2 linked regions of the Homo sapiens genome follow. The protein of the gene in region 1 interacts with the protein of each later gene in a pairwise test. Each region holds a gene or a part of one and is shown on either strand. Other genes may lie near its edges.

Region 1 (3,817 bases):
GGTTATTTCCCCTCTTGAGCCTGCTTCCTCCGTCTGTAAAATGAATATGTTGGCTGAGGAGATTCTGAGCTATCTTGCAACTTAGAGCAGGAGAGTCTAACCTTTTAGGGGGCTGGGCAGCCCTGCTCCATTCCTTCTGCCTTCCATTCAGTGGAAGGTGCCTCTCCGGGCTGGCTTGCCTCTCTCTGCCCGCCTGTACACAGCAAAATCCTGCGTTGAGTGAATGCAGCAGCTTCAGAAACCAGCTCCTGCCATCAGAGCTGAAGGACAAAGTGCCCAGCAGTTTTGGGTAGAGAGGGGAATGTCTGTAACCAGTCCCTGCTGGGAGCCCCATGTTAGTCTGCAGGCTCGCTCCCCACTCTTCTTGGGAAGAGCCCTTTCAGTTCCTGGGGTGCAGGTTTTAGGGACCTCTCCCTTTCCAGAGGGCTGCTTTTCTGGTCTATTTCATCAGCCATTGAGAGGGAAAATCAGGAACATTTGTTCATGCTCAGCTGGGGTGCAGCACAGGGAGGGGGCCTTGGAAACCAGCACTCTGGTCCCACTGAGCAGATGACGCCCATTGATCAGGCGTTTCTACCACCTGATGCCATTGAGCAAATGTACCAGCTTGGGCTCCTCCTGCCACCCGGGCTGGCACCTTGGACCTGCATTAGTGCTCCATCTGAGGGAGTGGGGGTGGATCATGAAACACTTTTTTTTTTTTTTTTTGAGAGACAGTCTTGCTCTGTCGCCCAGGCTGGAGTGCAGTGGTGCGATCTTGGCTCACTGCAACCTCTGCCTCCCGAGTTCAAGCGATTCTCCTGCCTCAGCCTCCCAAGTAGCTGGGATTACAGGTGTGTGCCACCACACCTGGCTAATTTTTTTTGAATTTTTAGTAGAGACGGGTTTCACCATGTTGGTCAGGCTGGTCGCAAACTCCTGACCTCGTGATTCACCTGCCTCGGCCTCCCAAAGTGCTGAGATTACAGGCGTGAGCCACTGCACTTGGCTTTTGAAACACTTTTTATAAAGAATGGGAGAGTAAGATGGTGAGCCTGTGTTTGCAGCTGGCAGGGCTGGTCTTTCATCTGGGTACTTGTTGTCTTAAGATTCAGCTCTTGCCCCTGGTCTGCACCCAAGACTGCTGGCTTAATTAGTGAATTCAACAACTTGGAGATGAGCAAAAACATGTTCACTGGTGGTGGGCAAGTGTGTACAAAAGGCAACAGGATGGAGCAGAAAGGTAGCTGAACTAGGCATTAGGAGACTGGTGTTCCAGCCCTGATACTGTTACAGATGGAGCGATGTGGCCTTGTGTGAGTCACAGCCTCTCTCTGAGCCTCGGTTTCTCTATTTCTTTAGAGGCAGCAGTGCGTGGTGGTTAAACTGCCTGGATTTGCCTGTTAGCTTTATCATAACTTCATATCAATTGTGTGACCTTAGACCATTCAACCCCTGGTGCCTCCATTTCCTGATTTGTAAAATGGAACTAGTAATACCCCATCAGATTGTTGTGGATAGTCTTTGAGATAAAACTAGTAAAACATTTAGCATAATGCCTGGCATATAGTAAGTGCTCAATAAGTGTTCACTATCATCATCATTGTCATGATTATCATTATTACTATTATTGTAAAATGGGAGGGATTAACTTTGGTCCTTTCTAGTTTTCTGGGGCCTGGATTGTGTGTGTGTGTGTGTGTGTGTGTGTGTGTGTGTGTGAGAGAGAGAGAGAGAGAGAGAAAATCTGTCTTTGGGGTAGAAGGTAAGGGTGAATAAGTTGCTTTTTTGGTTCTTTTCTTCCTTTCTCTGCCTCATTGAGGGACTCCTGAATGTTGTGACTAGGCTCATGGTAGCCCCGTCCCCATGGCAAGAAGCCCAATTTGACGTCACTGACAATATCCTGGCTCCTGGCAGTTGAGGGATGATATTTCATCAGCTAGCATTTGCCTGTCCTTTCCCTTCCACCCTTTGTTTCCCACCCTTCACCATGGTATGAAAACCATATGTGCAGATAATGTGTTTAAGCTGATCAGCCTCTCCCAGAGTCACCCAAATAAAAAGCCATCTTCCTAGAAGACACTTTCGACTTTAAGATAAATAATCTGGTTCTTCTGTTGTGTTGCTTTATGTCTGGCTGGCCCTGAATCCCTTTTTGTGTTCTGCCCATGGTCTGCTCCAAGGACGTGGGCTGGGCCCGGTCCGTGGTCTAAAGCTTTGGACCTTATTGGCCATGCTGGCCGGGGCAGCCTCTTCCAGCGGCTTGGGAGGGGCCAGGCCAGGCTGGGCCTCTGCCTCATCTTGTTCCAGCAAGGCTGCTGCTCTGAGATATCCCAGAGATGATTATCATGGGGCAGACACTTGGGGAATGCTGCCGCCCGCCAGGTGCTTGACAATACTTCATCCTGTCTCCGCCTACAAGGATGGTTTGGATACTGCCCCCATTCTGTAGATTAGAGAGTGAAGGCTCAGGAAGAATTCAGAGTAAGTGGTGGGATTGAGATTTGATCCTCGGTTGATCTGATTCTCTTATCCTGTGTGCTAAACCACTGTGTTATATTTCCTCATGTATCAAAACCTCCTGTGAGCCGAAAAGCCCCAGGAATGATATCTCTTAGACTGAATCAAGCCCCCTCCTCCCCACCTTTGATAATCTCGCAGGCTCAGGGCACCTTATGAGATTCCGTTTCTGTCCTGCATGGATTACTCAGGCATTTTGGGGACAGTGATGAGTAAGAGTTTTTTGGGACATGGCTGCTTATGGAGGGGTTAGAGCGGGGAATGATCTTATTAAGCAACAAAAGGTTGTAATGGAAAGAGGATGCATATTGGAGTCACAGATCTGAAATTTGAATCCCGATTCTGCAATTTACTGGCTGTGTGGCCTTGGCTTCCTTATCTGTGAAAATCAGAATAACAGCAACCACAGATGACTCTAAAATCTCAGTGGCTTAACAAAATGATTAACTCCTGATCACATTACTTGTCTAATATGGGTCTCTGTTCCACACGGTCACTCAGGGACCCAGGCTCCAAAGATGATGACTCCACCATCTTTGTAACTGCCCCTTCTAAAGCATGTGGCATCCAAAGTTACTGCAGATGGGGAAGAGGGAGAAGGGAAAGCCACACTAATACTCAACTGCTTTGGCCAGGAGGTGACACACATCACTTCACCTCCAGCACCTTGGTCAGAACTGTCATCTGGCCCCAAACCAGCCCCCAGGGAGGCTGAGAATGTAAGGAAGTACATGGATATTTGATGAGCACTAAGTCTCTGCATTTACATTTACCCTAGTAGAGTGCTTTAAGGATCAATTGAGATGATGCATTTAAAGCTTCTAGTATAGAGCTGGTATGTTGCTGGTTGTTAACACATAGAAGCTTCCTTTCCCTAATAATCCCCGATGTACATTGCTCTTTGTAGATTACAGACTGTGTCTATTGAGATTATTTCTGGGCAGATCATATTGTGCCTATAACATACCAGAGGGAGGTGAGTCCACGCATGGCAAGGGCACTATAAGCCAGGCCCTGGATCTTCAGCCCAGTTCTCCCATGACTTCCTTTGGCTTACTGAAATTTACTGCTCTGAGAACTTTTTCCAGCATGTCTCCCAGGATCTTTCAGAACCCACTTCTGCTCCTGTCTCCTCCCTGCATTCCTCAATAGGGTAGAGTATCTGTATTCATTTTATGGATGGTGAGGAGGGGAGGTTGCAGGAACTATCTGGAAACTAACGGAGAAGGGTCTGGCCTTGAGGTGAGACAAGCCAGAGTCTTAGGTATTCATAGGGAGAGCCATAAGAATTTGGGACCCACATTTGGGCCGCTTTGGG
Region 2 (3,817 bases), on another chromosome or scaffold:
GAAATTGAGTCTTAATCATCTCCCTAAAGCCAGAACCTGGCATAGTGTAGACATCAGTAAATGTTAATTGAACACGTGCTTAGGGAAAACCTACCAATATAAGGTGTCTTGTGAGGTACTCAGGGTCCTATTTGCCCTACAGAAGGGGAATCGCATATTCTTCCAAAGGCCAAGGGGACAAGCTCTTGTCTTTGTCTCCCATCCCCCATGCTTCATTCATGTAGAGTTTGGGCATTCACCGCAGAGAGAGACTCATCACCATTAGCTTCATTGTCTTTGAATGCGAGGAGCAGAAATATCTCTAATGGGAGACACTGATCAAACTTATGGACCATTTTGATGTCAGCTGAGCATGCTGGGCTGATGATAAGCAGGATGGAAGCTGGGGGAGTCCACAGCTTTGGGACAGAGATGTTCAATAGAAACCGATGGAATGGCTGACAGCAGGGCTCATAATTACTTGTCTGTCTTTCAAGTGAACTTCAGGACTAAAAGTTGTTAGCTAGTGGTTCCTAATTGACTGTCTAGAGATTGCTTGATGATATCCACTGTTTTCTGAGTTGGCAGAATTTTTCAGAGAACTCTGAGAATGGCCCAACCCTGTTTGTGCAGCTAATTAAACTCCCCTTGTTAAAATGCAATGCAAGATTTTTTTTTTGCTAGACTGTTATTATAATAAGCTATTTCTTCAAAAGTCCTTGATATGTCGGTCTTTTCTGTAAAAGCCTTGGCATGCTTGAGTTGGAGTCTTTCTATCTTTGGAGAAATGAGTAAAGCTGGTTTCAAGGGAAGCTGGCCTCTCTGATAGGTTCCTGGTGTATCTTACCGAGTCTTTATTCATCTCTGGCAAAGACCCTTCCCCTATTCAAACCCTGCTGTCCACCCCTATGTTCGACATAAATCTGCTTGTTTCTCCTCCCTACTCCTGAACTGTTTCCCACGTAGGGATGTGATTGGAAAAGAAAATTGAGACCAAGGTAATAAATTTTGACTAAACACATAAAAAATATGATTGGATACACACACATATTTTTTTTTTCTGCTCATCTTGAAACTTAAATTAAATTAAAAACAACTTAGATGCAAAAGCCTTGATTGGCCCCGAGGCCAGTGATAAAATAAGTCTTCATTATAGAAGCATCTAGACCCAGCTTGATCAGGCATTATGGAGGTTGGTGGCCATTAAATGCACAGGACCCATTACACCACCTGCAGCTGGCTGACCTGAACTTTGAGAGACATGGCCAGAGTCACTTCTGGCTCTGAAGACCATTGCTGTCTCCTTAGAGGTTTCATAAAAAGTCCCTTCAGGCTGATGTTCCACAGGTGAGCTTTGGGTTGGCTTTCAGATGAGATCATTAAAAGGCACAGCAAATTGGCTGCCAAGGGTTACTCTGTAAGGCAATAGTAGTAATAAAAAAATGTTAATTGTGCTGGGATCCTCTTGGGGAAGTTCAAAGGGGACAAAAGAAAAACAGGATCTTTCAAAAGTGTCATTTAAAAATATGCGGTGGCACTGAAGTGTGAGTCTGAATATCTTAAATGAACATAAAATATTTTAAAATGACTTTTTCTGCAAATGGTAAGCTGGAAAAAAACTTTTATTAAAAAAAATTGCACAAAACCTTCAAGCTCATACGCTATTCACTTTCTAACAAATGGCTGGTTCCCATTTTGAAGGATGTTAATTTGCAATTTCCCAGGCGATGAGAGGATATGAATTTGCATCATATATTTTCACTGTAGCCCACATCTTTGGTGATTCCCTCATTCTGATGAAAAGGAATTGGATTGGGTTGGGGTGAAGGTGAGGAAGAGAAAATGAGCAGTAGAAGGAAAGAGAATGTGACATTTTCAGATCACCTACTCTGTGCCAGGGACTTGGCTCACATTACTTCGTTAATACTGAGGACAACCCTGTGAAGTAGGTTATCTCTATTTTACAGATGAAGGAACTAAGAATTAAGGAGATTTCACATCTAGCAAGTGCTAGAATTGAAATTCAAACTTAGCACTCTCATAGCTTCTTTATTTCCCTTTCCTTGCATAGAGATAGGAATAATCTCCTTTAAGACTCCAGAATGGCCGGGCGCGGTGGCTCACGCCTGTAATCCCAGCACTTTGGGAGGCCGAGGTGGGTGGATCACGAGGTCAGGAGATCGAGACCACCCTGGCTAACACGGTGAAACTCCGTCTCTACTGAAAATACAAAAAATTAGCCAGGCGTGGTGGCGGGCTGTAGTCCCAGCTACTTGGGAGGCTGAGGCAGGAGCATAGAGTAAACCCGGGAGCCGGAGCTTGCAGTGAGCCGAGATCGCGCCACTGCACTCCAGCCTGGGCGACAGAGTGAGACTCCGTCTCAAAAAAAAAAAAAAAAAAAAAAAAAGCCTCGAGAATGGGGAATCTTCCTTTAGGTAAAGTCTGCTGGCGTAGTGGTTTTCGTACAACCAGTGGCGATGTGGCTAAACGCTGGGTGGTCCCCACCTGTGAAAACAAAGCTGTTTTAGCTTGTTTCTATGATTCTATTCATTTATGTATTGGACTCCACTTACTTGCCTGTAAGTACTCTCGACAAGCCAATTTCTGTCACTCCAGTTGCCAAAAGCTCAGATTCCAGCTTGTTATTGATGTTCAACTTGTTATTATTTGCAGTTGTTTTCCAATTTCACCGGCTCCGTGGATGACCGTGGGACCTGCCAGTGCTCTGTTTCCCTGCCAGACACCACCTTTCCCGTGGACAGAGTGGAACGCTTGGAATTCACAGCTCATGTTCTTTCTCAGAAGTTTGAGAAAGAACTTTCCAAAGTAAGCATTTTCTTTTCAAACAATATCTTGATAAAGAGAAACAAAACAAAATGTGTTTTAATTTAGGATTTTATAAGCAATCATTCTTCACTATCAAAGACATCACGTTTTTATTCTATGGTGATTTTAGTATTTATTTTATAGGACACCAATGGAGTTCTTATTAAGGCAGGGAAAATGAGAGCACAGGAAGAAAGTGGGGTTCAAATTGTTCACGCCGTGGATAAACTCACTATAGTATTGTGGTACTTAGGCAGTTGGAAAGAAGCCTTGAGCTCTCCTTGCAAACCCCAACCTGCAATTTTTATTTTGTTTTGACGCTGCTTCTTCCTTTTGGTCTTCTAGGTCTTTCCTCAAGCTTTGCTTTCTTTTCTTTCTTCTCCTCTATCCCCTTTAGTTCTATTCTATCTCCCTTCTCTTTTTCCTTTTCTTCTATTTCTATTCCATTCCTGCATCCTTTAGTTTCTTATTTCTCTTGCCTCAATCCTTGCCCTTATTCATCCCTTCTAATCTCTCTTTTCCTTTCCTGGTTAATTCTTTTTTGGGGGGGACATTTTTGGGTATTTTCTTACTTTTAGATGATCTTTTTTTCCCTCCTTCTTTTCCCTTCCTCCACTTCCACTCCTTCAAATCCTCTCCCTCTCATCCTCCTCCCTCCCTCTCTCTTTCCTTTAACCCTTTTTTATCTTTACAAATTGCTCACTTCCTTCTCTCTCCCCCTCACTCTCTTTTTTTGTGACAATAAGTTGTAGTCTCTTTTATTTTTTTCTATTTTCTCCAAGTGAAATCCAAGGTTGTAGTCTCTTTATTTTTAATCTTATTTTTTTTTGGTGTATAGTAGGTGTATGTATTAATGGGGTACATGAGATACCCTGAGACAGGCATGCAATGCGTAATAATCACATCATGGAAAATGGAGTGTCCATCCCCTCAAGCATTTATCTTTTGTGTTACAAACCATCCAATTAGACTCTTTTACTTATTTTAAAATGTACAATGAAATTATTATGGA

What was found.
Region 2: the proteins of TSPAN18 (region 1) and OLFM4 interact in a two-hybrid assay, tested with the Homo sapiens proteins (one large-scale study listed by BioGRID).

The regions. Positions count from the first base shown.
Region 1 is NC_000011.10:44,729,934-44,733,750, forward strand, and holds part of TSPAN18 (tetraspanin-18), read left to right. Parts: intron 1-3,817. UniProt on the Homo sapiens protein: Plays a role in the cell surface localization of ORAI1 and may participate in the regulation of Ca(2+) signaling and the VWF release in response to inflammatory stimuli.
Region 2 is NC_000013.11:53,031,696-53,035,512, forward strand, and holds part of OLFM4 (olfactomedin-4 precursor), read left to right. Parts: intron 1-2,652; coding exon 2,653-2,805; intron 2,806-3,817. UniProt on the Homo sapiens protein: May promote proliferation of pancreatic cancer cells by favoring the transition from the S to G2/M phase. In myeloid leukemic cell lines, inhibits cell growth and induces cell differentiation and apoptosis.